Linked DNA regions of Homo sapiens: region 2 is linked to region 1. The links come from fine-mapping of genetic effects on gene expression. A gene starts in region 1. The other region holds a variant in brackets. All regions are shown on one strand. Distances are from middle to middle.

Region 1 (16,195 bases):
ACTATCTCTAGATATTACTGGCAGCAATAGGAAAAAGAAACTTTAACATGTTGGTATGTCTGTTTTATTCCTACGTTAAAGTCAATCTTTATCGTGAGTTGTTTAAAATGAAACCATCAGAAATGGTGTTGTAATTTAGAGGTTAGTTATGTTTTGCACTTACAAAGTACTTCAGTTTAAAAATGAACGGGAAGAAAAGCATCCCAGAAACTGTAAATGAGATGCAAACAACTTCAGAAGTAATAGTCTTGTTGGTGCTGTAAGTCTCAAGCCATTAAACAAATCACCTCTTTGGGGAGGGTGCATGCAGGGACTGTCTCCACCCTCATTTCCAGCCTGATATCCCCCTTCCCAACACACAACACAAACACACAAACCTGCTGTGCAAGAAGCACCGCAAATAGATATATATTATGTATAATAGATATATATTATATATCATGTATAATATATATTATACATGATATATATAATGTATAATATATATTGTGTATAATATATATTATATATTATATAATATATTATATTATACATAATATGTTATACATAATATAATATAATATATTATACATAATATATTATATATTATACATATATTATATATTATATATTATATACATAATATATATAATATATAATTATTATATATAATATATAATAATATATATAATGTATATAATTATATAATTATATATATAATATATAATAGAATTATATATAATATATAATTAATATATATAATATACATATTATATTATATATAACATGTATATTTACATTATATATATTATTACTATATATTATGTATATATAATATATATTATTATTATATATAATATATATAATATATATTATTATTATATATAATATATGTAATATATATTATTATTATATATAATATATGTAATATATATTATTATTATATATAATATATGTAATATATATTATTATTATATATAATATATATAATATATATTATTATTATATATAATATATATAATATATATTATTATTATATATAATATATATAATATATATTATTATTATATATAATATATATAATATATAATATAGTATACATATATTATATATTATATAATATGTATATTTACATTATATATTATATATATTATAAAGATAATATATATAAAATATATACATTCTGCATCAACCCCAAGCTTTTTAGAGGGCTCCACCAAGGCCTGGCTGATGGTACCCCCAGCATGGGACCTGCCAAGGTGCTGGGTTTGAGAGATGAGGTGGCTAATCCCAGCAAGTTAGACCATGTGTTAAAATGGTTCATGTATAAAAAACAATTCCTAGACAGAGCCATTTTGCACACCAAGGGTGGAGGAAAAAGAAGTTACAGTTAAAGCCCCACTTTCTGTTCTGCAAATATCACACGCACCTTCCCCCAGGATTCAAATGGGCTTTAGCAGACATGGAACCAACCCATATGCCCAAGAAAATGTGGTACATATACACCATGGAATACTATGCAGCCATAAAAAGGAAGGAAATCGTGTCCTTTCCAGAGATATAGATGAAGCTGGAAGCCATCATCCTCAGCGAACTAACAAGGGAAAGAGAAAACCAAACGCTGCATGTTCTCACTCATAAATGGGAGTTGAACATTGAGAACACATGGGCACAGGGAGGGGAACAACGCACACCAGGGCCTGCTGGGGGGTGGGGGTTGAGGGGAGGGAACATAGAGGATAGGTCAATAGGTGCAGCAAACCACCAGGGCACACATATACCTATGTAACAAACTTGTACACTCTGCACATGTATCTTGGAACTTAAAGTTAAGTAAATAAATAAATAAACAAAACTAATGGGCTTTAGCACCTCTTCCCTTTTTCTTACTTCCATTACACAAGAAATGTGTCCGATAAATTACAAGATTGTAAAAAGGGAAGCTGGCTTATGTGTTACTATTCCCTCCTCTGCCAACGCCAAGCTGTTTTCCCCAATGAGCTATCATTGTTGTGGTTGGATGTTCAGATGGTCAACTCATAAAGTCTAACAGCATTTCATTGAGAAACCTATTTAATGGTCTGTTGCCATGGGTTAGGGAAATTATCATCTTATTCCCTCAACGTTTCATTCTCTTATTCTACCACTGTCAACAGGGAAGTTTCCATCTTACTCCCTCAACACTTCATTCCCTGACTCTACCACTGTCGATAGAGAAATTTCCATCTTATTATCTCAATGTTTCATTCTCTTCTTCTACCACTGTCAATGGAGGAGAGTTTTTTCTTTTAACTTTGTTCTATAAGATGTCCAGGTACATTTACAGTTATTTTGCATTGGCTCAAATCTGGCCATTTTATTTTTACTAAAACATCTCCATGGTGGATATTTCACAAACACTAATTTAATCAGTTGTTCTGGGGATGGATGCTAAAAAGTAGCTATTATATTTTGTTGACGAACTCCAAATGATTGTTGACTATTAAAATTGCAGTTGAGCACCTGTAGTTCATAGCAACTAACACTTCGGTCCACACAACCCTCGTGTGTATAAAATGAAACCAGTATATTAAAAGTCTGTCTGGCAAGCCACATCAAAATAGGTTTTTAAAAAGACGTTGATATTTTTAACAGGCAAAATCTGCAGGAACTCTTTTATTGCCTCAAAGTCGCAATTCTATCATCTACATGACTTATAAAATGGCACAGATGTTCTGCTTATTTTTATTATTCTTAAATCGTTGCTGAAGTCTACTTAAATCATCTTCATATGTTTAAGTGTGTGTCTCATGCATTCACCTCAACAATGTATTAAAGAAATGCTATCAAGGGAATTTCTCAACAAACTCTAAAGTTGTTCATGCTGCTCGTTAATAGACCTTACAGCAGTGGCAGCTGATGGATATATTGAGATAATCATCGAAAAAGCTGCGTTTAGCATAACTAAAACTTTTTCTCTCTATTCTGCCCATCTGCAGCTCCATAATTCTCGACAGAGCTACACAGAGGAAATGCACATATGAAGTTAAGTAAATGCACATACACACACGCAAAACCAGATCAAGACGCACGCACTGACAGTGGGAAGGTTCGGGAAGAAAGTGGTACAAACCCCAAATTGATTCTTTCCACGTGTTTAGCAATGCCAGCGGGCACGGAAGCCAGGGATCGGAACGTGCAGTGGACCTCGCTGGGGACGTAGCAGGCACAAGGATGCGGGCAGGCCAGCGCCACTCGCGGATGGCCCCAAAGCAGGATCAGCACCACGGAGAGGGCCCCCCAGTGCGCGCGCTTGGGCATCTTGTCGGGGTGCCTGATTCTCGGATACCTGAGGTAGAACAACGAAGAGATGAGCTTATTCACAGGTAGCACCGACGAACTGTGGGCAATTTTTAAATTTGAATTGTGCATCAGGGTTTCAAGCTTCCCAGGACTTCACACGATGTGTTGTAGTGACGCTTAAACCATGGGAATTGAGAAAGATGAAACATGGTTTTTTTTCTAAACTTTTCACCATTCACTTTAATCATGACTATAGAATATAGTCTTGATTCTTGGCTTCGATACTATGATTTGGAAATCTATCTTGCACTCTGTAATTGCGGCTATGAAACAGAGAGAGACGAGAGAGAGAGAGAGAGAGAGAGAGAGAAGAAAGAGGTTTATATTTATGTATCCATAATTAAAAAATAATAAAATATTGTGTTTCTGCCTCCAACAAGACTGAGCCATTATATATTGCATATATTTGAATTTAAAACTTCCCAAGAAGTGTTTATTCGTATTCTTTCCTTTAATGATATTTTTCAAACCTTTAATTCTAGCTTCTTGAAGAGCTTAAAGAGGTATTTGCTAGAAGGATATTCATCCTGTTATTTCTGGGTTTATTTACTATCCTTATGTTTTTGTCTTGGAAAAGCCAGAGAGTTTTTTTGATGATATAGAGTTGCTGTTAATCGGGGAGGAAGTTTGGGGGAACCTCTGATCATTCAATAAACAGGAAGGGACTGCTTATGAAATATATTCAGGCAAACAGAAAAAAATGGAGTCACTAAAAAATGGAAAAGCTCGGGTAAAGCTAGATTGCATCAGCTACTTCATTTAGAATGGCGGTGATCATTTTCTTCTTGTCCTGGCAATGCCTATGTCATCTAACATTTTTGTCATCTCTTGAATGGCGTTCACTTAAAAATAGTGACACACATGGAAAGTAAATAGGGATACACAACAAACACGCGCCTGCCCATTCGCCCGGGTTCTGAACGAGCGCGAACTGCTGATTAAAATTCTAAAACCCAGGCCGGACTCGGTGGCTCACGTCTGTCATCCAACACTTTGGGAGGCCGAGGCGGGCGGATCACCTGAGGTCAGGAGTTCGAGACCAGCCTGACCAACATGGAAAAACCCCGTCTCTACTAAAAATACAAACAAACAAACAAACAAAACAAAATTAGCTGGGCGTGGTGGCGCATGCCTATAATCTCAGCTGCTCGGGAGGCTGAGGCAGGAGATTCGCTTGAATCCGGGAGGCAGAGGTTCCGGTGAACCGAGATCGAGCCATTGCACCCCAGCCTGGGCAACAAGAGCGAAACTCCGTCTCAAAAAATAAAAATAAAATTCTAAAATCCTTCCTATAAGAGAGGAACATCCCAAACCTGTAGCTTTTCCTGCCTTTAAGTGACCTAGAAAAGGTTATTCTCTTAAGCCCGGGGGCGCGTCTCCCTTCAGCTGCCCATAAAGAACTGATGGCGCACAGGTAGTTTTGCAAAAAAGCAAGTCCGGGCTCCGCCTCTGGGCGCTGGAACAAACCGGCTCCTGCAGCTCTGCAAAAGTCCTCGGAGTTTTCTCTCTCGCCAGAGCCCGGGCTTTCCCCGCCCCTGCCTGCGCGCCTGACCTCGGCGCTGGGCTGGTTCCAAGGGCAGCCGCGCCAGTCCCCAGCGTCCTGTGCCTGCGGGCGGACTTGGCCCGGGCGTTCCATAGGACTCTTCAGCCCCAACTCCCTGTCCGGCCTCCCACCCCGGCACCAACCTCCCGGGAGACCCAGGAAACTCGCCCCCAGACAACCCTAATCCCGGGGACTCGGGGTCGGGTCTCTCCGCCGCGGAGAAAGCGGCCTGGCGCCAGCTAGGCCGCCAGAGACGGTCTGCGAACCCCGCCGGGAAGCAGGGGTGGGGGCGTGAGGCCGTCTGCTTTCGTCTTGGCCCTGGGCAGACAACCTGGAGTGGCCGGGCGGGCAGCCCTGAGCCCCTGGCCGGCTTCCAGAGTCCGCTGGGTCGCGTCGAGCTGGCTGCGGGATGAATTACGAGCTTTCCCGGAACGCGGCTGGGGTGGCCCTGCGAGTCCCCGCCGCCCGGGACTCGGACACCAAACCCCTTTTGTCTGCGTGATGACTGTCCCGGTTTTTTTGCATGGCTCGGATCACTCTAGGCGTTGGGCTGTCCCCTTTCCAGGGAAAGCCTGGGTAAGAGTAGGAGGAAAGAGGCGGGGAAGGAGAGGGGGAAGAGAGGAGGGAGAGGAGACTTGAAGTAGCCACAGCCTGAGCAACTTGGAAAGAGGCTCCTCAAGCGTCCTTTCCCCCACCGATTGCAAGAGCAGAGTGGGCTTCACTTAGGAATTCCGTTGGCAGCTTCCTAGAAACGCGGGATGGCGGGGTTGAAGGTCTCCAGAGAGAGCCAGGGATGGGGAGCGCTTTGGGGAGAGGGAGGAAAGGAGGCATGGGATGTCTGGGCTTAATTAGACCTATTCAGTGCATCCTCCTTCAAGATCCGGCTCTCCTCCCTATCTGATCCTTAGCTACTTAAAATTGCAGGAATTCAGGTATCCTGATTTCTTAGCAACTTCAAACAGTGCTGGGGAACGGTGCAATCTGCCTGCATGCAGGCCCTTTACCCCCAGTGTTTCCCTTGGGTGTCTCAAATCCCTTCACCCCCTGCAGGCAGACACGGCAGCCCTGGGGCGCCCTGGCCACCCTGGGTCCTCACCTGTCCTTGGGAAGCCGCCGCACACGGGAGCGGTGCGCCGGGAGCATCCACCGAGCCGGGGCGCGCGAGTCACGGCCGGGAGTTTGCCGGGGCCATGCCCTTCCCGGGGCCGGGGGTGAGGCAGCTCGGCTTCCCAGCGCGGCACAGCAAGCCGGCGCCCTTTTATTCCCGGCGCTGCGAGGCTTCCCCAAGTCCACGCCTCGGCACACCCCCACCCTGCCCCACCCCGGGGAGACGGGGCGCGGGCCCGAGCCAAGGGACCCTGGCCGCGCCGCTCTGCGCTCAGCCTTCCTCTCGCGTCTTCATTGCGCCTGGGCCCGGGTGGGCATGCCTCGCCCACTCCAGCTGCAAGAACCGCAGGCGGCTCGGGGAAGGAGGGCTCTTTGTCAGAGAGAAGTCCAGGACCCCAGGAGGGAAGGGCGAGATGCAGGGAGCGCGGTGGGAGCCGCAGTAGAGTCCGCGCTTGGAGAGCGCCTAAGCAGCGCTGGGAACGTTTCCGTTCCTTTCAGGAGAGAGAGAAGGAGCAGGGTTTGCGCTTCTCCGGGCCAGACGGTGTTTTCTCGGCAGCTCTTCCCAGACCGTGTGCAAGCAGGAGCGGGCTGGCCCCGCCGGCATCCCACTAGCTGCAGGCAGGGCTGCAACGTGAGAGCCGCCGCCACGCCCTCCCGCCTCTCCAGGACTCCCCGGCGCCCGCCTCCCTCCCCTTGCCAGAGTCTTCCTGCCAGAAAGGTGGAACGGCTCCCCTCCGGCTTGGGGAGCATTCGAGGGGCAAGGCGAGGGTTGGGACGTTCGGAGAGTCTGATGGTATTGTCTGGGGAGGGGGCGGTGGGAGGGTGGGAGCGACCTGGCGACAAGGCAAAAAGTAGAGGGTGCAGAGGGTAGGTCCCTATTCCAGGAGGCAGAGGAAGAGGAGGCGGCGGCTGCCTGGCTTCCTGGATAAGTCAGACCTGGAATGGTGGGGAGAGGTCAGGCGAGTATCTTCAGTCAGCAGAGCCAACCTGGGGTAAAAACATGGAGCTCAGACAGGTGTGTAGGGCCCGGAAAGGCACCATTGCACCAGCTTGTTGTAGGGTGCACCAGCGACTGCTTTTCGCTATACCTCTGGTTAGCCGTATTCCTCTCCCTGAACCAGCATTTTGACATGTCCTTAGGGTCAGTGTTTGCCTGTTGTGTTCTTTGATCTACAAAAGACATCTGTGAGTATAAAAAAAATTTTTTTTACAAGCCCAGTGGTACCATGTACTTGTACAACGAATCCTGTCTGCTGAGATGCCCCTGAAGCAGGCTGATGGCGTGCGGCATTTATGTATGTGTGTATGTATGTATATATGTATCTATGTATTTGAGACAGAGTCTCGCTCTGTTGCCCAGGCTGGAGTGCCAGTGGTGCGATCTCGGCTTACTGTAACCTCTGCCTCCGAGGCGCAAGCGATTCTCCACCTCCGTCCCCCATGCAGCTGGTACTAGAGGCTTGCGCCACCACGCTGGGCTAATTTTTTTTTTTTGGTGCGGACAGGGTCTCACTATGTTGCTCAGGCTGGACTCGAATTCCTAGCCTCAAGTGATCCATCCACCTCGGACTCCCAAAGTGCTGGGATTACAGGCGTGAGCCACCCAGCCCAGCAGGCATGCAGCTTTTAAAAGGCAATGCATGGAGAAAGTATAATTGAGAAGTGCCTGCTCTTTAGATTCAGAAGTCCTGCCCTACGTCCAGCACTCTGTCAGGGGGCTTTCAGGAGGAAGGAAGGACTAAGCCTAAGAAACAAGTTGCTTCCCCTGCATGAAGCGTGGTTCATCTTAGCTCCTCCTAAGAAACACAGCGTCTAGGAATTCCTCACCACCTGCCTCCTGCGCCTAGGGTGGCTTCCACAGAGTTGATAGTCAGGAAATACTGGTTCATAAATGGGAATTCATTCCTTCTCTAGCTTTAGTTTTCAGTGTGTGTTGACATAGTTCCAGGGATTAGTCAAATAATGCCCTTAGGTAGCCTCTTTCTGGGCATGCCCCAAACCCATTGATTAAATCACGAAACAAAACAAAACAAAAAACAACTGTCTCTTGAACATCTCTTTACCCTTGTTAATGATGTTGCCACCCATCTCGTCAGCTAAACTAGAAACTCAAGCCATCCTTGCCTTCTGCCTCTCCTTCATGTCTTCCTCATAGTCAACTGGTTGCCAAGTTTAGATCCTGATGCCTAAGAATCTCTTGGCCCAACGTGTTCTTCTCTCCACCTCTCTCACTGCGGTTGCATGGATATGTCTTAGATTTTGACAACTTCTTCCTCCACCAACTCCTTCTCATTCATCCCTTCCAGCCCATCACTGAGACTTAGAGGGATGCCATCATCCTCAAACCCAAGGCTGAAGTTTTCCATGGGTGGCCTGTGCCATGCCCTGTGCTTCCCAGCCTGTCCCTGGGATCTTCCTTTTGGTGATAGATCTGGCTTGTCAAGAACAAGTAGCACATCCCTGATTTTTGTTGTTGTTGGTTCACGCCACTGTTTTGACAAAGTTCTCCTCAATCTCCATTGTATAGTATTTCCTTACCTCCATGCCCATTGCTAAAGTGGGCTTTTTTCCTGCATTGTGGACAATCACTCACCTTCTTTTTATGCCGTCATAGCTTCTTGACACCTGGAGTATAGCACAGAGCTTAGCATACACTAAGCGTTCAATTGAATGAATGAATGAATGAATGTGCGCATGACTGACGTTGAATTCTATTAAGAAATGTCTAGATTTGGCCAGGCGCAGTGGCTCACGCCTGTAATCCCAGCACTTTGGGAGGCCAAGGCGGGAGGATTGCTTGAGTCCAGGAGTTTGAGACCAGCCTAGGCAACCTGGCAAAACCCTATCTCTACAAAAAAAAAAAAAAAAAATTAGCCAGGCATAGTGGCATATGCCTGTAGTTCCAGCTACATACTGGGGGCTGACATGGGAGAATTGCTTGAGCCTGAGAGGCAGAGTTTGCAGTGAGCCAAGTTCGCACCACTGCACTCCAGCCACAGTGACAGAGCAAGACCCTGCCTCAAAAAAAAAAAACATTTAAAAAAGTCTGGATTTCTCTGCAGTAAGGAAATCTGTTTATACTACCTTATCCAGGGGGATTATTATTGGCACATTTAATAGATAATATCTATCAATACCTCTAAATACTTGTGTTACCTGTACAATCTGCACCCCAAAAATGATTTATCGAAGTCTAGTTAAAGGCACAGGTTTACGGAAATGAGATGGTTAACTCAAACATAATGGCTTTAATTCCTTACAAGTGTGAAGTAAATAAAATATCAAGTCAACTAATTCAATTCTGCTTTGCAAATTTCATGCATGGGATGAAGGGGAGTGAGCAGCGGAAAGAGACCGCTGAATGGGAGCAGGGTTTTAGCTTAGGGTGACAGAAACGTTTTGGAACTACATGTAGGTGATGGTTGCACAATATTGAGGATGTACGAAATGCCATGACATTGTTACTTTAACATGGTTTACTTTACGATGTGAATTTCACCTCAATAAATTATTTTTAATAACACACATACTAATAAAAATAAATGCCTAGATTAGAAAAGTCCCAGGGCGTAACTTGTACAATAAATCCACAAATAAAGCATTATGGAATCTCGTCATTCTGTACTTTTTTTAAATAAAATGCATAGTTTGCTGCATTTAGTCTTTTTTGTTTTGATGTTTGTCCTGCTAATGTTGCCTGCTTGCTTGGTGATGTGTTCCCAGAGCAGGGACCATGTTTGATTAATTGTTGAATCCCTTGAAGTGCCAAGAGAGTTCCTTAAATACAAGAGGTTTGGAGTACATGTCGGTTAAATTAAATTCATCTGCTTGCTAATAATTCCACCATGTGGAGGGTGAGGAGGGATGATCAAATGAAGGGCAGGTCAGTCCTTGTAGCTACAGAATGTACTTCAAGCAAAAGCTCAGTGATTAACAAAAGGCCGGAGCCCTCCTAATCGCCAGATGCCATGGAACCTGAAGGATTGCAGCTTGTTGCAGGATGCACCAGTGACTTTTACCAGCCACTGCTTTTCACTGTTCCTCTGGTTAGCAGCATTTCTCTTCCTGAACCAGCATTTTGACAACATGTCCTTATTATCAACATTTGCCTGTTTTGTCTTTGATCTACAAAAGACATCTGTGAATATATATATATATATATATATATATATATATATAAAATAGAGCATTCAGAAGGAAATCCAAACAGGTTTGCTAGCTCACTTCCCATCACGCAACCCTGATCCTCCATCGAGACCCCCTTTCCTCTAGAAATGTGGAGGTAGGGAAACTTGCAGCCCAGGAGACCCAGGAGGCCCTTACCACTGGGGAGCCATCATCCCTCTGCCTCCGTCATAAGATCTTTAAAATCCACTTTTCTTGCAAGGCTTTAACCAACAGCAGAGCCATAGGTGATCGAGTCAGACAGATAGTAGAGCTCAAACCACCTCCTCCTACTACTCGCTATTTCTTGGCCAGAGGGCCTAGAACACACTATTCTCCCTTCCTAAAACCAGATTTCTCAAGGGTACAATAAGGGTAATTTTACCTCTTGGAGGTGGCGTAAAGACAGAATGCAATGCTGTATAGAGAGAACTGAACATACTACCTGCACCACATCTGTAGTTAATATTTATATATAGGATCCAGCGAATCTACAGTCATTTTTTTCAGCTTTATTGCTGTGTCTTTTATCTTCCTATCCAGGTTTTACCCCAGCGCAGAGTCTCTGGAGGTGCACTGGCTGTTTTGTGTATGAACTGCAGTTCCTGGCGATTCTGATTTCAATGTGAAAGTCTAATATTCTAAAGGACTCTGTGGATCACTATGTAATTTTCTTAACAAGGGTTGTAAAAGTAACTTTCTTAGTCACATGACTGCAAACCCCACTGCTTCCCAAACTCTGTAATCACGAGAAGGGCTGACCTAGTGAATACCCTTGGATGACTGGAGGGAAAAAAAAAAATCGACACAGGAAATCTCTACTTCAAACTCATGGGCTTGCATAGCTCAGAAATCTCAGGGGCAGACTAATAGCTAGTGGGGTTGTATCTTTATTTGAGCAGAAACAGACTTTTAGGAATTTTCCATGGGAACTTGCCCTCATCTGTGTAGGGTAAACCTTCAATGAAAATACGGGCTACTGGCCACCTCAATGAAAATGAGGGGGTATTTTTGTTTTGCTTCTTATCCTCATAGCACAGTCGGTAGGAATACTCTGTTCTCTTGCATGTACTAAAATGCTTCCAAATTTTCTCAACAGCATACTTTAAAATAGAACAGCAGCGTGGAAAATAAGTAAATAAATACAAAGAACACGTCAGAGAAACCCTCTAGCTCTCCTGAGCACAGTTGAGTTATCTCTGCAGATTAGGCTGGAGAAAATTCTGCTTAGCATGGTGCATATCAACCTACAGAGAAAACACATCGTGGAGAAGTGAACTAGCCTGACCCAGCTTGGGCAGATGTGCTGATGGGGATTTCTCGGCAAAATGAAAGCTGTTTATCTACTACTGTGTCTTACCGGGACCAGCGGCACCTAGAACGGTGGAACTCACAGACACAGGCTTCTCCGCTCTGGATCCCTAAAATTTCAGTCGGTAGAAAACAGCTGCAGAAGATGAGATCATGGAAGGTTATCCCCTTCCTCCCCAACCCAGACCACACAGGCCAGTGAATTGCAGACAGGGAAAGGCAAGGGAATGTCAGCAATTATTAATGAATCCCTTCAAAGACCTCAATCCTGGATGGGTCATTCAGCAGAAATCGCAGAAATCGAGACCTAGCTCACTTTTTTGTGGGGGGATGAAGTCTCACTCTGTTGTCCAGGCTGGAGTGCAGTGATGGAATCCTGGCACGCTGCAGCCTCCACCTCCCGGGTTCAAGCGATTCTCCTGCCTCAGACTCCCGAGTAGCTGGCACTGCAGGTGCGCACCACCACGCCTTGCTAATTTTTGTATTTTTAGTAGAGATGGGGTTTCACCATGTTGGCCAGGCTGATCTCAAATTCCTGACCTCAGGTCATCCATCCATCTCGCCCTCCCAAAGTGCTGGGGTTATAGGCATGAGCCACCACACTCGGCCCATCTCACTTTTCAAAATAAAAATGGCACATTTTCAACATGAAACTATTCATTTCAGAAAGATGTTCTATAAATGATGAATACTCACGATTCTGGAGTTCACATCAAGAGGGAACCCTAATGAAAACTACGGACTTTGGGTGACTTCGATGTCTCCGTGTGAGTTCATCTGTTGTAACAAATGTCTCACTCTGCTGAGAGCTATTGATCATGGAAGAGGGGGTGTGTGTGTGTGTAGGAAAGGGATATATAAAAATTTCTGTGCCTTCTGCTCAATTTTGCAGCTCAGACTGCTCTAAAAATAAAGTCTAGTTTTAAAAATTCTATATTTAAAGAGTCAAGACTCTTTTTTTTCCTCCCATCTGTTTTGGCTTACATTTTTGCTGACTTGTCTTCTTTCAGACAAGCGGCCTCTTGGAATAAAAACCAAATGGCTTCTAGGGGATTCCACATGGAAGCTGCCCTAGAAGCTTGTGAGGAAGAAGGAAAGAATGTCACTGAAACTAGTTCTGAGCACTACTGGCTGGTGGAGACCTTGCCCTCAAGTGGCATGGTCTAGAAATCTCCTAGGGCAGCGGTCCCTGATCTTTTTGGCACCAGGGACCAATTTCATGGAAGACAGTTTTTCCGTAGAGCAGGATGGGGGTGGGACATATGGTTTTGGGATGATTCAAGCACATTACATTTATTGTGCACTTTATTTATATTATTATTCTACTGTAATATATAATGAAATAATTCTACAACTCACCATGATGTAGAATCTATGGGAGCCCCATGCTTGTTCTGTGCAGCTAGACAGTCCCATCTGGGGGTGATGGGAGAGACAGTGACAAATCATCAGGCATTAGATTCTCATAAGGAGCCTGCAGCCTAGATCCCTCGTATGTGCAGCTCACAATAGGGTTTCTGCTCCAGTAAGAATCTAATGCTGCTGCTGATCTGACAGGAGGTAGAGCTCAGGATGGGAAGCAGCTGTAAATACAGATGAAGCCTCACTCACTGGCCTGCTGCTCACCTCCTGCTGTGCAACCTGGTTTCTAACAGGCTGGTAGCAGTCCATGGCCCATGAGGTTGCAAACCCCTGTCCTACGACATTGTTCTTACATGTGGATGGATTCCAAGATCCATCTCACTTTTCAAAATAAAAATGGCAAATGGTCTCTCCTTCAGCATGAAACTATTAATTTCAGAAAGACCTCCTATAGGTGATGAATACTCAAAATTCTATAGGACACCACGTGAAGTGCTTTCCCTTTGGGTAAGATGTCTCTTTCATGAATTAGAAGAAGCCGCCTTAGTTAACAGACCCGGGGTGACTCATGGAACAAGTTTTAAGTTATTCTTAAAATACAGAAGAGGAAATTAGTACTTAAACACAGTGACCTTTGATTCCCTGCATAATCATGAGATTGAAACATACTGAGATTTACTCGATTATAAATATAGGTGTGTGTTTGTAAGTGGACAAGCTTAGAGATTCACTAAAACTCAAACTAAATTCAAAGGAGCACTAATGTATTTTAAAGAAGTATCAAAACACTTTGGAACACGCTCTTTAAAGATATAAATATAACTCTCTTATGAATAAAGTGAAAGAAACAAATAACTCAAAGCCGTTAGAAAGCCTGGATGAGAAAATTCGGCTTCTAAATGTTGCCCTGAATACCTTACAAAGAAGAAAAAGGCAAAGAAAATATCTAGCTTAAACAGAAACTGTGGTTTTGTAATGATTCCTAATTAGCCTTCAAACGTGGGCACAATCTGTATGCATTTCCCAGGACTGCCGCACAAATCGCCACTAACTGAGTGTCTTAAAACAACAGAAATTTATGCTCTCCCAGTTCTGGAGGCCAGAAGTCTGAGATCAAGGTGTGGGCAGGGCTGCACTCTCTCTGGAGGCTCTAGGGGAGGGTCCTTCCTGCCTCTCCCAGCTCCTGGGGGCTCCAGGCATTCCTGAGCTTGTGGCCGCATCACTCCAGTCTCTGCCTCTGTCTCCACGTGGCCTTCTCCTTTGTGTGTGTACCATCTCCTCTTCCGTCTCTTAGAAGGACACCTGTAATTGCATTTACGGTTGACTCTACTCCAGGATGATCTCATCTCAAGATCCTTAACTAAATGTTTTTACATCCTCTTTCCCAGAAGCTATGAAAATTTTACCTTATAGGGCAATAGGGGAATCAAAGTTGGAGGGAAAATGAAGTTTGCCCATCAGCTGATCCTAAAATGAGGAGATTATTCTGGGTTATCCAAGTGGACCCCATGTAATTGCAAGGGCTCTTAAAAGTAGAAGAGGGAGGAAGAAATGGAGGTTAGAATGATGAGATGTGAGACGGTCTCTGCTGGTTGTTGCTGGTTTTGAAGATGAAGGAAGAAACCACATGCCGAGGAATGCAGGCAGCCTCTGGGAGGTAAAAATTGCAAGGAAATGGATTCTTTCCTGCATCCTCCAGAAGGAACCAACCTGGCCGACACTTTGATTTTAGCCCCAGGAGACTCATTTAGGACTTCTGATTTCTAGAACTGCAGACGAATAAATGTGTGTTGTTTTCACCCAGCATTTTTGGTATTTGTTTTAGCAGCCACAGGAAACTCATACAGAGCTCTTGCACAGGGTCTACCATCTGTTCTTATAATTGATGCGTGATTTGTGAGCTGACTCCCTGGACAGGCATGTGGTTGCTGAAGGGAAGATTTGACACTTCTTAAATTACCAAATCCACTACTCCTCTGGTAAGGAACTAGAGGAAAGAAGCAAGAACCAACACATGAAGGTAAGTTTTGCTTTGTTTTTATTATTATGTTATATTGTATTTTTATTACAAGGGAGAGTATTTTACCCATGGGCTTTTATTTTGAAAATTATTAGATATGATTAATTATTAATATCATCTTTAATAATTATTAATATCATCTTTAATAATATTATAATTATTAATTATTAATATCATCTTTAATAATATTATAATTATTAATTATTAATATCTAATAATATAATATTATCTTATCTAATGATATTAGATAAGACTAAATTATTATAAGATAATTGTTTATGATCAGTCTTTCCTCATTTATTTCTCAGGCATAACCATTGTAAAGATAGGCATAAGTATGAATGTTATTCATTCATTATGTAAAATATTTTAAATGGCACACATCCATATGTATTAATACACGATTCACTATATATAAAAATTCAGAGAAGTTAAAAGAAATTCCTAAAGACCACTTTGTGTTTTTAAGACTCTGGAAGAAGAGATTGGGGGTAGACAAAAAGACTTAGTATTGAATTTTTTTTCTTTTTTTTTTACTCTACGCATTTTTGGTTTTATACCCAAAAGGGGGATTTGTTTGGTTTAGAAAGAATGTCTTCTGATTTTTATGTTTAAAAGGACCACTGGATGTTTTATTGCCTTGACATTTAAACTTAAAGCCATTAAGGAATATGAGGTTAACCTAGTTAAACTCCTAAAAGACCCAAGTCACGTAGTGCTTTTCATCTCCTGGTTTTTCTTTTTTTCTTCTTTTACTCTGAAATAATCTTTTTTTGGCAGGGGATGGAGTCTTGCTCTATTGCCCAGGCTGGAGTGCAGTGGTGCGATCTTGGCTCACTGCAACCTCCGCCTCCCGGGTGCAAGCTATTCTCCTGCCTCAGCCTCCCAAGTAGCTAGGATTATAGGCACACATCACCATGCCTGGCTAATTTTTGTATTTTTATTAGAGACGGGATTTCACCATATTGGTCAGGCTGGTCTTGAACTCCTGACCTCATGATCCGTCCGCCTCGGCCTCCCAAAGTGCTGGGATTACAGGCGTGAGTGACCGCGCCTGGTCAAAATAATCTTTTAAAAAGAAATATTACTCATTTAAATAAAATGTGTCTGAAGTTTAGTAATTCCATGAGTTTCGCTTTCTATTTTGGGGTAAAACTCTCATATAACATAAAATGGACTATTTTAATCATTTTAAAGTATGATTCAGTGGCATTTGGTGCAGTGGTCCCCAACCTTTTTGTCACCAGGGACTGGTTTAGTGGAAGACAATTGTTCCACGGATGGTGGTGGTGGGGTTGAGGAGGTTGGTTCCAGGATAATTCGAGTACATTACATTTACTATGCACTTTATTCCTATTATTATTCCA
Region 2 (16,195 bases), 180 kb after region 1:
GCACCACCATTACATGTCATATCTCAAGGAGTCACTATCTGTTTATCCAAATGAGAAATCATGGCCACATTTTTTAGCTTCCATGTCCAATCGTTATCCTCACATCAGACCTGGCAAAATGTTCCACCAAGTCTGTGGATAACTTCCCTCTCCAATCTTTCCCTTTCTCCTTAGTCCCTCTGCTGTTTTCCTGGTTCAAATCATCATCTCTCTGAAGGCTAAGACAGACACTGGTAACTCCCATTCTCTCCTTTGTATTTTTTGTCATGGAGTGTCCCCCCACCGGCCAAAGTTTTTGCTGGGCACGTCTGCCTCTGTAGGGATACCTTTCCGCAGCCTCCCTTGCAGGTAGTGGCAGAATGTGACCAAGTGTATCAGTGAGCTATGAGAAGAATGGGCTGGCCCTCTGCTGCCCTTTTTTTTTTTTTTTTTTACTTTCCTGAGGGCTAGTTCCTGTAGATATTGTTTGCTGAGCATGTATAACACTCTTTGGTATAGCAAAGACAGCAATGAGAGCTAGGTTCCCTGAAAAGACTTTCCTGTGTACCTACTAAGCCACATCGGACCTATACTTAGAAACAAATTTATCTCTCATTGGAAGCTTATATCACCATCATCATCATCACCTTCACCATCATCATCACCATCACCATCACCATCATCATGACTATCATCACCAACACCATCATCACCATCACCATCACCACCATCACCATCACCATCACCACCATCACCATCACCACCACCATCACCATCACCATCACCACCATCACCACCATCACCATCACCACCATCACCACCACCATCACCATCACTATCACCACTACCACCATCACCACCACCACCATCACCATCACCACCACCACCATCACCACCACCACCATCACCACCACCACCATCACCATCACCATCATCACCACCACCATCACCACCATCACCATCACCATCACCACCATCACCATCACCACCACCACCACCATCACCATCACCACCACCACCATCATCATCACCATCACCACCATCACCATCACCATCACCACCATCACCATCACCACCACCATCACCATCACCACCATCACCATCACCATCACCACCATCACCGTCACCATCATGGTCATCACCATCATCATGACTATCATCACCAACACCATCATCACCATCACCATCACCATCACCATCGCCATCATCATCATCTAAATTTTCTACTTTATTTAGGTCTCTTTGGTTTTCCCCAATATCCTCTTTCTGTTCCAGCATCTTCCAAGATCTTACGTTACATTTAGTTATGACATCTCTTTATGCTCCTCTTGGATGAGACATTTTCTTAGACATTCCTTGTTTTTGATGACCTTGACAGTATTGAAGACACTTGGCAAGTATTTTCTAGGATATCCCTCAGTTAGGATCTGTCAGTTTTTTTTTTTTTTTTTCATGATCAGACTGGGCTTACAGGTTTTGGTGAGGAAAACCACGGAAGTAAAATGCCACGTTCATTGTATCATATCAAGAGTGCCTTCAAGAACCTACCAGCGGGGATTATGGCAATGGACCATAAAAGTTGTCATTGGCAGTTTCCAAATTAAGGTTCTCTCCTTTTCTTTTCTTTTTGGCTTGTTCTGCCCGTCATTAGCCAACGCATTAAGATTGCGGTATATGTCACCACCTAGATTTAACTGCATTTGGAGAATTAAGGTAGAGGCTTATGTCATATTTTGGATGCTGTGTATTGATATCATAAGTACTAGTGAAGGCACCCACAAGGAATAAACTTTTCCCCAGTGTCTAAGTTAGACTCAAATCATATTGTTTGGGCATTAACACAAAGGGTAAGCCCTGAAGAATAAGGAGGAGGAGAAAAGGGAGAAGGAAAAGAGGAAAAGCAGGAGATGAAGGTAGAGGAGGAAAGAGAAGGAAGAAGAGGAGAAAGAGTAAGGAAAAAGGGAGAAAGATAAAAATGTTAAGGTCACTCTCCCCATAATGGATTAGACACAAAACCTTGTTCCACAGAAGGGTAAGTCTGGAAAGAATTGAAGAACCACAGCTCAGTTTTGCAAAGGGAAAGGGTATGAACCCAAGTAGAGACAGGACAAGTTTGCTCTGTGTTTGACTTGTTTTCAACACCATTCCACCCATGAATGCCACCATGCGCTTGCTTCAATGTCAGGTTGAGGAATCAGTCTAAGCAAACTTCCTTCATACTTTCTACTATCAGCCCAACCATAGGCAGATTATCTACAGTTATTCATTCAACATTTATCTTATTGGCAAGTCTCCTTCCTGCCTTCCTCCTACCTTGCACAATATTGAATCTCTGCATTTCTATTTCCCAGTTACATTTTGATTTTTCAGCAAGATCCATACATCCAGGCATCGATGTGAGTTGTCAGCAGGTAGTGGGGGCAGAGTGGATGCTGAAAGGCCCCAGAGCTCCTTAAAGCTGAGTCCCTTTGCTTGCCAAAATGCTCTCATATCCTGTTTTGCATGCCACGTGTTAGACAGTACATTCCATCCAGTGGAGATACAGCTGCTTGTATCATTGCAAACCAGCTAAAGACACGCAGCCCCGGCTTCTGCAGAAATTGGCTAGGATGCGAGTTAAATTGTCCCAATTTGCTAATGAACATACAGAAGGAAAAAATCTTTTCAGCTTGGCTGGTTAGTTGCAAAATATGTCATTTTCTCATTCACATAATTGTTGGGCATGATCAAGTGGAAAATGCAACTATTTTTAAGGTACTCTTTTGCCATATAATGGTGACTCTTTAAGGGTACACATCAGGAAGATCCATCTGGGAATTTTTTTTACTAGGTAGTTAAGATTTTCTCCCCTCCCCCAGACCTACTGAAAAAGGATAGGGTGCATGAATTTTGATAATGTTCTCCCTGGGATTTTGATTTCTAATCCTGGATAAGAGCTCTGCTTGAAAGAAGTGGGGTGATTGGGTTTAGGGCTGCTTCCAACACTGAAGTTTAGGATTCTATGAAGCTTTAAATTTGGATGGAGTGAAGAAAAACCCAGACATCCATTAATGTTAATAAACAGCTGCACATTAGGAAAGTAGATACACTCATAAACTAAAATATCTCTTTATTTTTGTTTCCTGGCATGAGTGCATTCACCTCAGAAACAGTCTCTATGGAAGCGGCCAACATGTAGTCCCTACTGTGTTTATCCAGCCCACTTCCTCCTCCTACTCTCCAAATATCTTTTGCATTACTCTCCTCAACCCACTAAGTGATTTCTGCTCATCTCTCTTTCTGCTCAACTTCAAAAAAGAACATTTTATATTGGATTATGGTGATCAGAGAACCCGTAAAGACCTTATGGTCTTATAGCACATGTTTGGCATCATTACTATCATTACATAGGCCTGATGTTTCTGTAGATGAGTATCTATAGCTATAGATAGAGCTATAGATGACCAAACAATCAATGAGCTCGCTGCTCAATGCACATAGAGACTAATACCATGACACTGGCTTTTGACAAAAGAAAAGCTTTATCGTGAGTCAGCTGGCAAAGAGACAGGAGGTAATGCTCAAATCTGTCTCTGTGAGCTGGGCTTTGGGTCAGGTTTTATAAGCACAAGGTAATTAGACAAGATCTAATTGGACCTTGCAATGAAGTGATGCCATGAGGCATGATCTGATTGGATCTTGCCATAGGGTGACAACAGGGTTCAATCTGATTGGATCCTGAATCTTGACACGTGGTGTCTGCTTCTTAGTTCAGTCCCTGCTCCTCAGTTAGCTTTCTCTCAAGTTGCATGCTTGGTTCATCTGGGCACATTCAGGTTACATGATCCTCAATGTGGGGGTTCATGGCAACTGAAGAACAAATCACAATTTTGCTACATGAAAGTTGAGCCAGATTTGTCTGATGTCGTTTATATATATAATAATATGTACAGACACACACACACAGTTTCATGTTACTTAATTGGTCACTTCTTAGGTGTCATTTTTTTCAGTTCACAAACCGTAAAAAATTATAAACTTAATAAGGATGTCCATTGAATAAAGACAGCACTTTTAGCTCTCAGACATTAGGAATAGCATGCATTTTATATAAGTTTAACAAAGAAACAGAATAACTTGGACTGTCTACCATTACTAGAAAACCAGAGAGATCAAGGAAGTAGAGTGCAAGAATGTTATCTGGACATCCACCGAGGGTGGCCAACCATCTAGTTGACTCAGAACTTAGGGGTTCAGTGCTGAACACACCCTGGGATGTGGACATTCAAGCTAAAACCAAGAAAACCACAGGCAAACCAGTGTAAGCCGGCCACCATACTTATGCTTCCGGTCAAGATGGAGTAACAAAAACAGAGTTTTCCCTCCAGCCTCAAATGACCAAAAAGTAAAGAGTCAACCATTTAAGGGAGAACTATTTTCAAGACTGGATACCAGGCAGTTAAGGATAGTGATTCTCAAAAGAAGATTAATTTTTAAAATAAAGGGAAAATAAATAAATTTTCAAAAGAGAAAAAAAAAAAAGGACGGTGATTCTCTAGAAGCAGAAAAACAAAGTGAGACCTATGGTGGCCCCAGCTCACTGCCTTGAGAGCATTTCCAGGCTATGACTGGAAGGCAGAAACTAAGAGAAGCCTGGAAAACTCCCCGAGTTGAGGAGATGGAGCTGAGAGAACAGCCCAATCATAAATCAACCTACTAGAAAGCATCTCGCCATCAGAATTGTCAAAACATCAAAGCGGCATACCTTTGCGATAAGAGATTCTGGAAATTTTCAAACACAGTTGGGTCAACTCTTGCTTCTATCCCTTGAAACCCTAATGTAAGATGTTTGGAGTGTGTGTCGGGCTGTTTTCTATTTAATGCAAAACTTTGAGCCAGCTCAAACACTGTCAGATTTACACTATTGAGTTTTAAATGACTTCTTTTAAAAAGTTAGATATATTATGCAATATTCCATCTAATATTTTGAGGGGAACAAAAGAATGCAAATACAGTTTGATGGACTTTAAAAAAATCATTGTAGGCCGGGCATGGTGGCTCACACCAGTAATCCCAGCACTTTGGGATGCCAAGGTGGGAGGATTGCTTGAGCCCAGGAGTTCAAGACCAGCCTGGGCGACATAGCAAGACCTCATCTCAAAAAATAAAATAGAATAAAAATAAAAATTTAAAAAAACATTATAATTCTATCCTGAAAAGATAAAAAATCAAACCCAGCATATCATGAGTAATTCACCTATTAGACAACTTAGTACAGTGCCAGTAAAATGGGAAACTAGGTCTATACTGAGATAATCTAATTATAGTTCATGCTTTGCTTTCTGATGTTGGGTTGTTTCAAAAGAAAGACATTTTGGCATAAAACATCCAGATAATTACAGTTAATCTGAATTTATCATCTTTGATTTTATTTGTAGATAACAACAATGTTTACATTTGTTTAGTTTCTGTAAACCTCAGTCTATAAACAAAGAAGATACCTTCGAGACTATCCACCTGTGAATTAAAATTATTTGCTTTAGCAAGACTAAGCAGAAGAAGAACATAGCATATGCTGTAGAGGACGTGTCTTGTTCCTTTAGTGGCATTTCTTACTACTGGAGTTTTTTGCACTCAATTTATCTGGGATTTAGAAAACGTAGCCTTAGCTGTACATGCTTGGGAAGAAAGAAAGCCTTCACATTCTCCATATGTGTAACAAAGATGTGTATTTCAAGCATATAGATGCTTTTCTGCAACAAAAAATATATAGTCTCAATGGGTTATCCAGACTGCCTTTATGTTCACCAAAGTGTTAGGCTGTCCAAGATTAAAATTCCCCAAGCCCGTTAACCTCACCCGTTTTTTTCTGACTACAGCATAAGCAACTCTTTCATGACATCACTAAATAACATACACATGTGGTCACAGTTACAGATATATATTTCCTGGCTGTATGCAAGATGAGGCACTGTTTGCACAGTATCCTTTAAGCAAAATGTCACCTTCCACCTGCAGACATCTGCCTACCCAAATGCGGGTGTGCAAGCAGTATATGCTAAGAAAAAATCTGTTATAAACTGTCAGAAGAAGACCAGACAAACTGCAGACCTCAACAGCCTACCGCCCTTAGGCAGCCGTTTCTACAAGAAATTATGTGCAGATTTTCCTAAGCCCAAGAGCTGTTGTAGACAGGCATGGTTCTCACACATTGCATCATTGTTCCCCAGTTGGGAATTAACTCTGTCTCAATCCCATTTTAATGTCCCCAGCAGGTATATCAATGCTCTGATTCCTCTCTGATTATCATCGAATCACCAAATTACAGTAAACAAAAGTCAGACCATGCAGTGAAGAGACTTCTCCATCCATAGCATGTTATTCTTTGAAAGTAGATGGTTTTATTTAAAAAATAAGAATGTACAAAATTGTGCATGCTAGTTTTTTTCAGAGAACTTAAAACACACGGTTACCCTGGAGGAAATGGTCACATTCTTTATTTCTGTCAGTGCCTGTCAAGATTAAACTTCCTGATTGGAGACTAGAAGATAAGATCAGAGCAGGAATACAAAGAAAGAGAACACAGGCTACCAGACGTTTCCAATCACAGTAAGAAATGGCCTCTGGAATGGAACTCAAATTAGACTAAATTCCAAGAAAAAACCTCCACCGGTCCTATCTCTAATTTTTTTTTCACGCACAAAACCATGGGATTTCTCAGATCTCAGTCTGTAACTGTCTTGGTCAGCTTGGGCTTCCATAACAAAATACAGTATACTGAGTGGCTTATAAACAGCAGATATTTGTCGCTCACAGTTCTGGACTCTGGAAGTCCAAGATCAAGACATGGCAGATTTAGTGTCTGGTGTGGACTTCCTTCCTGGTACGTAGATGGCACCTTCTTGCTATGTCCTCACATAGTGGAAGGGGTGAGGGAGCTCTCTGGGGTCCCTTTTATAAGGGCACTGATTTCATTTATGGGGCTCCACCCCTATGACCTTATCACCTCCCCAAAGCCCCAATTTCTAATACTATAACCTTGGGAGTTAGGATAAATTTGGAGAATACATGAACATTCAGACCATAGTAGTGGCAAAGGCTATAGTCATGTGTCACTTCACAACAGAGATACATTCTGATAACTATGTCCTTAGGTGATTTCCTCATCGTGTGAACATCACAGAATGCACTTTCACAAGCCTAGATGGTCTAGCCTACTACACACCTAGGCTATATGGTCTAGCCTGTGGCTCCTGGGCCACAAACCTGTATAGCAGGTTACTGTACTGAATACTGTAGACAATTGTAACACAATGGTAAATATTTCTGTATCTAAACTCATCCAAACATTAAAATATACAGTAAAAATATGGTATATAAAATAAAAAATGGTACATTAGTATAGGGCAGATTCATTATATCTTTAAGGAATGACTGTCATATATGTAATATATATATCCAGGAGTTGGAGGCTGCAGTGAGCTATGAATGTGTCACTGCACTCCAGCCTCGGTTACAGAGGAAAATCCTGTCGAAAGGAAAGGAAAAGAGGAGAGGAGAGGAGGGGAGGGGAGGACAGGGGAGGGGAGGAAAGGGTGTTAATATCAGATAATTTGACAGAGAGTGGGAAACCAGGAGAGAATAATTTGGAGTGGGAAAAAAAGGGAGAGAGTAGATACAAATGCTGTTTGCAAAAGAGCAAATCAGACAGTTTCTCCTCACAGCCAACT[C/G]GTAGATAAAATAGCATCCCCTTGCTCTTCTGGGTGTAATGAAAATTCCCACTCAGTAGGTGTTCTACTATTATGACATTAGGTCTGGTAAAATGCCAGTGCTGTTTGCCTGTTGCCATAATTAAGTAGCCATTGACACTTGAGTAAGAATTAATAAATAGTGCACTGTCAGCAAATGGATTGTCAGGTTCGAAAACCCAGCTGATTTACTTCCAAGAAAGACAAACCCCCTACTGCAGCAGAGAGCCTGGAATTAACAAGACTTAATCTGCTAAAGGAGAAGGCAGACTCCCAAAAAGGGTTAACGGGAAACTGAACACAAGTCCCACTCACATCAGGATTTTCCAGAGCACAGACTGACCTTTCACAACTCCACAATAAAAACCAGTGACTTCTGAAGAGGGATTCTGAATCATATTTTTCCCCAAGGATTTGGAAAAGTCACTTTTTCATGTGTCATCCTCACTTGTGGGGGACATGTGTGTGTGTGTGTGGCTTCATGATTGATTGTCTTATGCAAACTCTAATTTTTTACCCAGGTCTACCTTGGTTATTCTACATAGGTGGTCCAATTCTCCATTTATTTACCCCTTTTTCTGCCATGCTGTTATCCCTTAAAATTAGCTTTACATTTTTTAAAAAAAAAATGTGTCCAAGGCATGAACCAGGCATAGGCACAGATGAAAAGCCAAGCTGGGAGGAACAAGGGGTTGCTTTGTCCCTGGCTGATATGAGATGGGCACCACCAACTGGATGCCACTCTACCCAGGTCAGGGAAATAAAATGAGCTTCTTAGGACAAATCAGAAAGGCACTCAAAGACAGTCAGCGATAGGGTTTGGATCTGTGTTCCCACCAAATCTCATGTCAAATTGTATTCCCCAGTTTTGGAGGTGGGGTCTGGAGAGAGGTGATTGGATCATAGGGGTGGGTCCTTCAAGAATGGTTTAACACCTTCTGCTCAGTGCTGTTCTCATCATAGTGAGTGAGTGATCACGAAATCTTTTGCTTGTTCAGAAGTGTGTAGCACCTCCCCACGCCTTTCTCTCTCTTCTTCCTACTCCAGTCACTAAGATGCCTGCTCCCCCTTCACCTTCCACCATGATTGTCAGTTCCTGAGGCCTCCCCAGAAGCAGAAGCTGCCATGTTTCCTGTACAGCCTGCAGAACTGTGAGCCAATTCAACCTCTTTTCTTCATAATTATCTAGTCTCAGGTATTTCTTTTCAGCATTGCTGAGGCAGGATAGGTAGTCAAGAAAATGACTGTGTTCTTTGTGTGCAGCAACCATGGTTACCATGACCATACAGTCAACACAGTAAGCTTCAGCATTTGCACTGTCATTGAACTCATTCAAGCAAAACAATTCTTCAGTAGGAACTTTCCCTTACAGAGAGCATGCGCATTTTGATGTTACCAGTCCTCAAACTGACCCTTTGCTCATTTTAATAGTAAAAAGCACACCTGCGGGTAGAGATATAAGATGTTAATGAGACCTGCAATGCATGAAAAAGCACGTACAGCTACTGCTCATGTGCACCCAGAGGACCACCCAGAACATGCTTAACAGCAACACCTCTTTCCACCTCCTTATAAATCATCATGTAAGACTCCCATAAAGGGAGTTTCTCCAGCAATAATCAATACTCTGTCACCCTAACTAGCTGCCTGCCCTGAATCTACTTTCTCAGGTTGTACTCTCTAGTCTCCCGCTGACTTTCAAAATACTCTTTTTGTTTTGCAATAATTTACTCTATGCTGCATCTCCTTGGCTGTGTGTCTGTGTTTAAATTCTTTTAAACTAGGAAGACAAGAATCAAGGTATCACGACAGCCGTCAACAATGTGAGAACGGACTAATATGAACAGAAAATGAGGAAAACAGCTATCAGGTAGCAGGACGAGAAAGTCTCTGATTTCATCCTGCAAACAACCTGTACCACACCAGGCTCACAGGCCCTCCTATATCCTTCAAGCTCACAGGGACCCCCACCATCCTTCCATGCCGACAATATCCCACGTGTTCTCCCAAGCTCAAAGTGGCTTCCACATCTTTCTAAGCTCTCACTCACTCGCAGTCCATGTCCTCCAAATCATATTTCTCACAAGATTCCACAACTTTCTTTTCCTGCCTCTTCCCTACAGGCAGAGGTTAGAATCAGCCTCTCTGGTCAGCCTCATCTGAACTCCTTTTTCTGTCTTTTCTTTCCATTCGTTCATAATCAGTGCTTTGATTAACATCTCCACACTTGGACACCCTGGGTGAAATGTGCTCCCTGTGGGGCTCTGACGGATACCCCATCTTCATTCATTCATTTCTATAAAGCAACTTGAGGCTTGCAACCCTGTTCACTGTTCAATTTGCCTTTTTAAACCCAGCCTCATATTCCACCATCCTACAGAAACCCCCATGGCTCCACAGTCTCCCAAAAGTAAATTTAGGGGGAAAATAGCCTATGATATACAACTTGTAAAATTTTGTCTGTTGATTTCACCTTTCTGATTTGGCTGAAGTTTCACAATGCAGGGATATCATCATCACTCTTCCAACAGGAAGAAATCTTTTTCTTCAATTCCCAGCAAACTGAGGAACTAGAAGATGAGTAGCACTGGCACTCAAAATATTTAGACACATATGAGGGCATTTCTTGCCCAAAATGACAGCTTAACTTTACTGCTACTGTTTACTGTAATCTTAGGAGGCTTGTGAATTTTTCTGACCCTCCAGCAAAGGTGAAGATCAGTCATCCATAACTGATGTCGTAAAGCAGATGGCATGAAGCAGACATCTGCAGTGGTAATGGAACAGGAAGCTTACACTCTTCCTAGCTTGGAAACAATGCTCAAAAAGGGTACCTGGTAAAGACAAAGAGTTAACACTGGGAAGTGTGCTGGGGAAATGCTAATTTTCTCACACTTTCCATGCTCATGCTCAGTCCCTGGGGCAGCGTGACCAAGAGCTCTAGGAAGAGAAGGAGAATCTCTTTTCATTTACCCCTGACTCCAAACATGCATGCAAACAGATGGGTGCATCAGTAGAATAAGTTCACATTCATCTACCAAAGGGTTCAATAAACTAAGAATTACATGATCCTATTTGGGGTTAAAACATAGAAATTTTGGTTTCTTCCAATAATAACAACTTTGCACTAGTAGTTCACTATCTAGAGCAAATAAACTAGAGAAGCATGGTGACTATGAAATAAAAATCACAACTGAGTAAGACTTTTAGAAAGGAGACAGTATGTATTCACTGACAGCCACATATTTCAGCAAGATGCACCAGGTAGTTGTTCTTGAGAGAATTAATAACAGATGAATCTCAGGTTCAGAAAAGGCAAAAGTAAAAACAACAAAACTGAAAGCTACAGACAACTTGGAACAAGAATGTTCCAAAAAAAATCTGGCTTCAAGATGCTCAGGAACTAGATTCCTTCCTTTTATCTCTTCTACCACCCTAATACATGACTTTCATCTTCAAGTTTGCCTCATGTCTCAGTGTGAATGCTGAAGCTCCAGCCATTGTATCTACATCCCAGAAAGCAGATGAGGGAGCAGTGAGGAACAAAATGGCCTCTGCGCCAAGTGAATTAGCTCTTTCTCTGCAGTCTTCCTAAATGTCCCACGACATTTCTACTGCAATCCTATTGAACTTAGTTACTTGGCCCCAACTAGTTGAATGAGAGGCTAGCAACTATAGTTTGCTCGTTAAGTTTGGAACATTACCACCTCAAAACAAATTTGAATTCACTTGAGAAAGGACTTCAGGGCAGGCTTGTAATCCCAACACTTTGGGAGGCTGAAGCGGGAGGATCACTTGAGGCCAGGAGTTCAAGATCAGCCTGGGCAACATGGCAAAACCCTGTCTCTACAAAAACTACAAAAAAATTAGCTGGGTGTGGTGGCAGGTACCTGTAGACCCAGCTACTTGGGAGGCTGAGGCAGGAGAATCACTTGAGCCCAGGAGACGGAGCTTGCAGTGAGCCAAGATTGCGCCACTGCACTTCAGCCTGGGCGATGAGAGTGAAACTGTGTCTAAAAAAAAAAAGAGAGAGCGAGCGAGCGAGCGAGCGAGAGAATGGACTTCAGTTATCAAATGCCAGTTTCTGCTCCAAATGCCATGGAATAACCGACTTGATGAGAGCTTAGAGATGACAGCTTAGAGATTGGTCAAGGAAGATTTGTGAGCCACGAACACCAGCTTCTAGAAAAGCAGTGCACACTCCTCTGCAGGCTCACTCCCAAGCAAGCCAATTGTTCACTGTGGAGTTTGGGTCTCCTGTCCCTTGCTCCCTTCTCCTCACACATCCCCAGTCACCCTGGAGGTCAGAATCTAAAATGGGTCAGCAGGGCTGCTGTCTTTGGGAGGCTCCAGGGAAATCGTTTCTTGCTTTTTTCTGACTTCTAGAGGCTGCCTGCATTCCTTGGCTCATGGCTCCTTCCTCTGTCTTCAAAACCAGGAGTGTTGCTTCACTTCCCCCTTCTCTGTCTGTCTCTGCCTCTCTCTTCTCTATCTCTCCTTGTGCCTCTGTCTGTCTCAGCCTCTCTCTGTCTCTCTTTCTGCCTCTGCCTCTGTCTCCCTCTCTCTGCCTTTCTGTCTCCCATTCTCTGTCTCTCTTTCTCTCTGTCTCTCTTTCCCTGTGTCTCTTTGTCTCTTCCTGTCTCTCTGTCTCTGTCTCTCTCTGTCTTTGTGTTTTTCCAACTCTCGTTGTCTCTCTCTGTCTCTGTGTCTCTGTCTCTCTCTCTTTGTGTGTGTGTGTGTGTGTGTGTGTGTGTGTGTGTGTCTCTGTGTGTCCCTCTCTGTCTCTGTCTGTCTTTCCTTCTCTTTCTCTGTCTCTCTGTCTCTGTCTGTCTCTCTCTGCTTTCTTCATCGCATGTCTTCGACTCCTTGCTGCTGCCCTCTTCCAAGGAGCTTGGTGTTACACTGAGCTCATCTGAATAATCCAGAATAATCTCCCCTCTCAAGAGCCTTAATCTGGAAAGTCCTGTTTGCCATGTAATGTAAAAGATTCACAGGTTTCTGAGATCAGGACATGAACATCTAGGGACAGGGGAGACCCACGTTGCAGCCCATGGCAACCACTTTAGGATTCTCAATAAAATAATAGAGTCAGCCAGGCCCAGTGGCTCACACCTGTAGTCCCAGCTATTCAGGAGGTTGAAGTGGGAGGATTGCTTAAGCCCGGGAGTGAGCTACGACTGCACCACTGCACTTCAGCCAGGGCGACAGAGCAAGACCCTGTCTCAAAATAAACACATTAATTAATTATATAGAACAGAATTTGTTTTTCTAAAAGGTATTTACTGTTTTGATGACTGTTATCTGAATGTTTCAGGTAATGGATTTTATTTATTTATTTATTTATTTATTTATTTATTTGTTTGTTTATAGAGCTGGGTTCTTGCTTTGTTGTCCAGGCTGGAGTGCAGTGGTGCAGTCATAGTTCATTGCAGCAGTGACTTCCTAGGCTCAAGTGATCCTCCCACCTCAGCATCCGGAAGAGCTGGGACAACCGGTGTGCACTACCACACCCTGCTTATTTTTCAAAACATTTTAGTAGAGATGAGGTCTGATTATGTTGCTCAGGCTGGTCTAGAACTCCTGTGCTCATGTGGTCCTTCCACCTCAACCTCCCAACGTGCTGGGATTACAAGTGTGAGCCACTGCACCTGGCCATGCTGATTTTAAAGCCTATTTAAATCTTAAAGCATTACATTGTCCTCCATTTGATGGCATAATAATATTTGTGACCATGTTCATATGACAGTGCTTAAACATGTTGAGTGTTCAGAGAAAGAACCACTGTTGCAGACTGACTGATGTTTAGAATGCCTTGTGGACAAAAATATTACAAAGAAGAAAGAAGTAGTTTTCTTTAGCCCTCAGAAGACTACTTGGTGAATAAACCAGTGACATTTCACTTTAAAGAAAAAATTAAGCAGGTAGGGTTTGCTTCAAAGTAAATGTGTGCTGAGCATAGGAGAATAAGAAGTGGAGAAACCTTGTATACATGGAAAGGGTAAAGTTAACTCTTGGAATGTGGCTAAAATTCAAGGTAAGGAACACAGCAAGTTGTCAGAGTCATAACATGAATAATTAAGGTAACACAGATAGAATTTTACAAATTCAGTTTGCAAAATAAATATCCAAAGAATGACTGAATAATTAGTAAGATCTATAGTTTAGCATTTAACAAAAAGGATTCACTTCGGATGCTGATCTGTGAGCCAATCTGTGTCTATTTCCATTCCTCTTTACAGCACAGCTGTCATATATTCGCTATAATATGATAGATATGCCAGGCATGGTGGCTCACACCTGGAATCCCAGCACTTTGGGAGGCTGAGGCGGGCGGATCACCAGAGATCAGGAGTTCAAGACCAGCCTGGCCAACATGGCGAAACCCCGTCTCTCCTAAAAATACAAAAAATAATATAAGCAGCCGCTTTTCCCTGGCACATGGGGTCTCCTCTCTTGGCTTTGGAGCCCCCTCCCTCTGTCTCTGCACAGGGGAGCTTCTTCCATCTTTCTTCTCCCTTCTTTCTTTCTATTAAACTCTCCGCTCCTTAAAGCCAAAAAAAAAAAAGATTTAAAAAATACACATACAACTACAAAAAATAGCCAGGTGTGGTGACGCACGCCTGTAATCCCAGCTAATCGGGAGGCTGAGGCAGGATAATTGCTTGAACTTGAGAGGTGGAGGTTGCAGTAAACTGAGATCGTGCCACTGCACTCCAGCCTCGGTGACAGAGTGAGACTCCATCTAAAAAAAAAAAAAGAAAGAAAAAAGAAAAAAAAGAATAATATGATAGAAAGATAGATAATAAAATAGTAGATTAACAGACGATACATGATAGGTAAGGTAAGTAGATAGATGATAGATAAAATGATAGGTTAATAGGTAATAGAATAATACAATAACAGATGATAGAGATGATATGTAGACAATACATAAAATGATTGATAGGTGACAGACATGATAGCTAGATAGATGACTGACAGAAAGATAATAGATGACTGCCTGACAGATAGATGATAAACAAATAGATGACAGGTAGATAGATATGATAGGAAGATGATAAATGATAGTCAATAGATAGATATGATAGATGATAACGATAGCTAGATGATAGATAGATGATAGATAAATGCATATGATAGATATGATAGAAAGATGATAGATAATATAGAGAGATGATAGATAGATAGATAGATAGATAGATAGATAGATAGATCAATAGATAGTACATACATACTTTCATTTCTATGGCTACTTTTTAAATAAATGCCTAATGTTTTATATGTTGACATATAAAAGCGTGTGTTCAGCCCAACTTCCATTGTGAAAAACAGCATGTGAAATCTAACACCACTCAAAGAATTTGGTGCATTTTCTTGGCTGTAGTGCTGGTCAAGTTTGGCCTCAACTGCCTAGAGTGAGCAGCAGAATCAGGGTAGGCGGCCGGAGCAGTGTAGAGCCCCATCACCCCACTCAACAATGACACAAACATGAAGTGAGGGCTGGACTCGGGAGATAAGAGGTTGGATACAGTGGACAGGTCACCAAGATTCAGAGTCTACCATGAAAATCAGACAGTGGGGCTTATAGTGGAATGGAGAGAGCAGGACCTAGGACCAGGGTGGTGACTCAGTGGGTCCACATGAATACTCATTGATGGTAGTTAGTAAAGAGGGGACATTTTTGTGGAGTCAAGATCCAAGCCGTGGGAACTCTGTCATCTGGTCCCAGAAACTGAGACCTAAAAAGGCTTTTATCTATGAAGAATTTTGACAAAGGCATACTTACTTACCTGAACAAGACAACAGTGTCAAAATATAGAAGATGAGGGGCAAAAAGAGAGAACAAGGCACTGGGTTTCCCCAATATCTTCAAGGGACATTACTAAGCTCTTAAGATGAAACACATCCCATAACCCGCACCATCACCAGGAGATGGGCACTATTCTCATCTTCATCTTAACAAATAAGACAATGGAAGTTCAGAGAGATTAGAGAATTTGGCCAGGTTTCCACAAGCAATAAGCAGAAACACCATTGCTTGTAAGAACCTGATCTATAATAGTGCAAAGGCAGTCTAACACTTATTTACAGTTCAAAGGATTGTAACAAGTAGATTTTTTTTTCTGTGTTACCCCCACCCCCCTTAATATTTTCATTAGCCAGCATTTAAATTATAAGCAGAGGTCGGGTGCAGTGGCTCACGCTTGTAATCTCAGCACTCTGGGAGGCCGTGGTGGGTGGATCACTTGAGGTCAGGAGTTCGAGACCAGCCTGGCCAACATGATGAAACCCCATCTCTACTAAAAATACAAACATTAGCCAGGTGTGGTGACGCATCCCTGTAGTCCCAGCTACTCGGGAGGCTGAGACAGGAGAATTGCTTGAACCTGGGAAGTGGAGGTTGCAGTGAACTGAGATCGTACCACTGCACTGTAGCCTGGGCAACAGAGCCAGACTCCATCTCAAAAAAATAAAAATAATAAAAAATA

Evidence for each region. PIP is the estimated chance that this variant, and not a neighbour inherited with it, causes the effect. A credible set is the group of variants that fine-mapping cannot tell apart.
Region 2: its variant is the best candidate, but not a certain one, in a credible set for the expression of MXRA5 in fibroblasts (GTEx, PIP 0.90).

Annotation. Positions count from the first base shown.
Region 1 is chrX:3,340,555-3,356,749 of GRCh38, forward strand. It overlaps MXRA5 (matrix remodeling associated 5), which reads right to left and starts at 6,098. Exons shown (of 7, transcript NM_015419.4): 1 at 5,961-6,098; 2 at 3,092-3,307. The coding sequence starts at 3,279.
Region 2 is chrX:3,523,785-3,539,979 of GRCh38, forward strand. It overlaps SNORA48B (small nucleolar RNA, H/ACA box 48B), which reads right to left and starts at 8,467; the gene lies at 8,333-8,467. RefSeq lists an enhancer at 3,646-4,845. The variant C/G (reference allele first, on the strand shown) is at 7,689.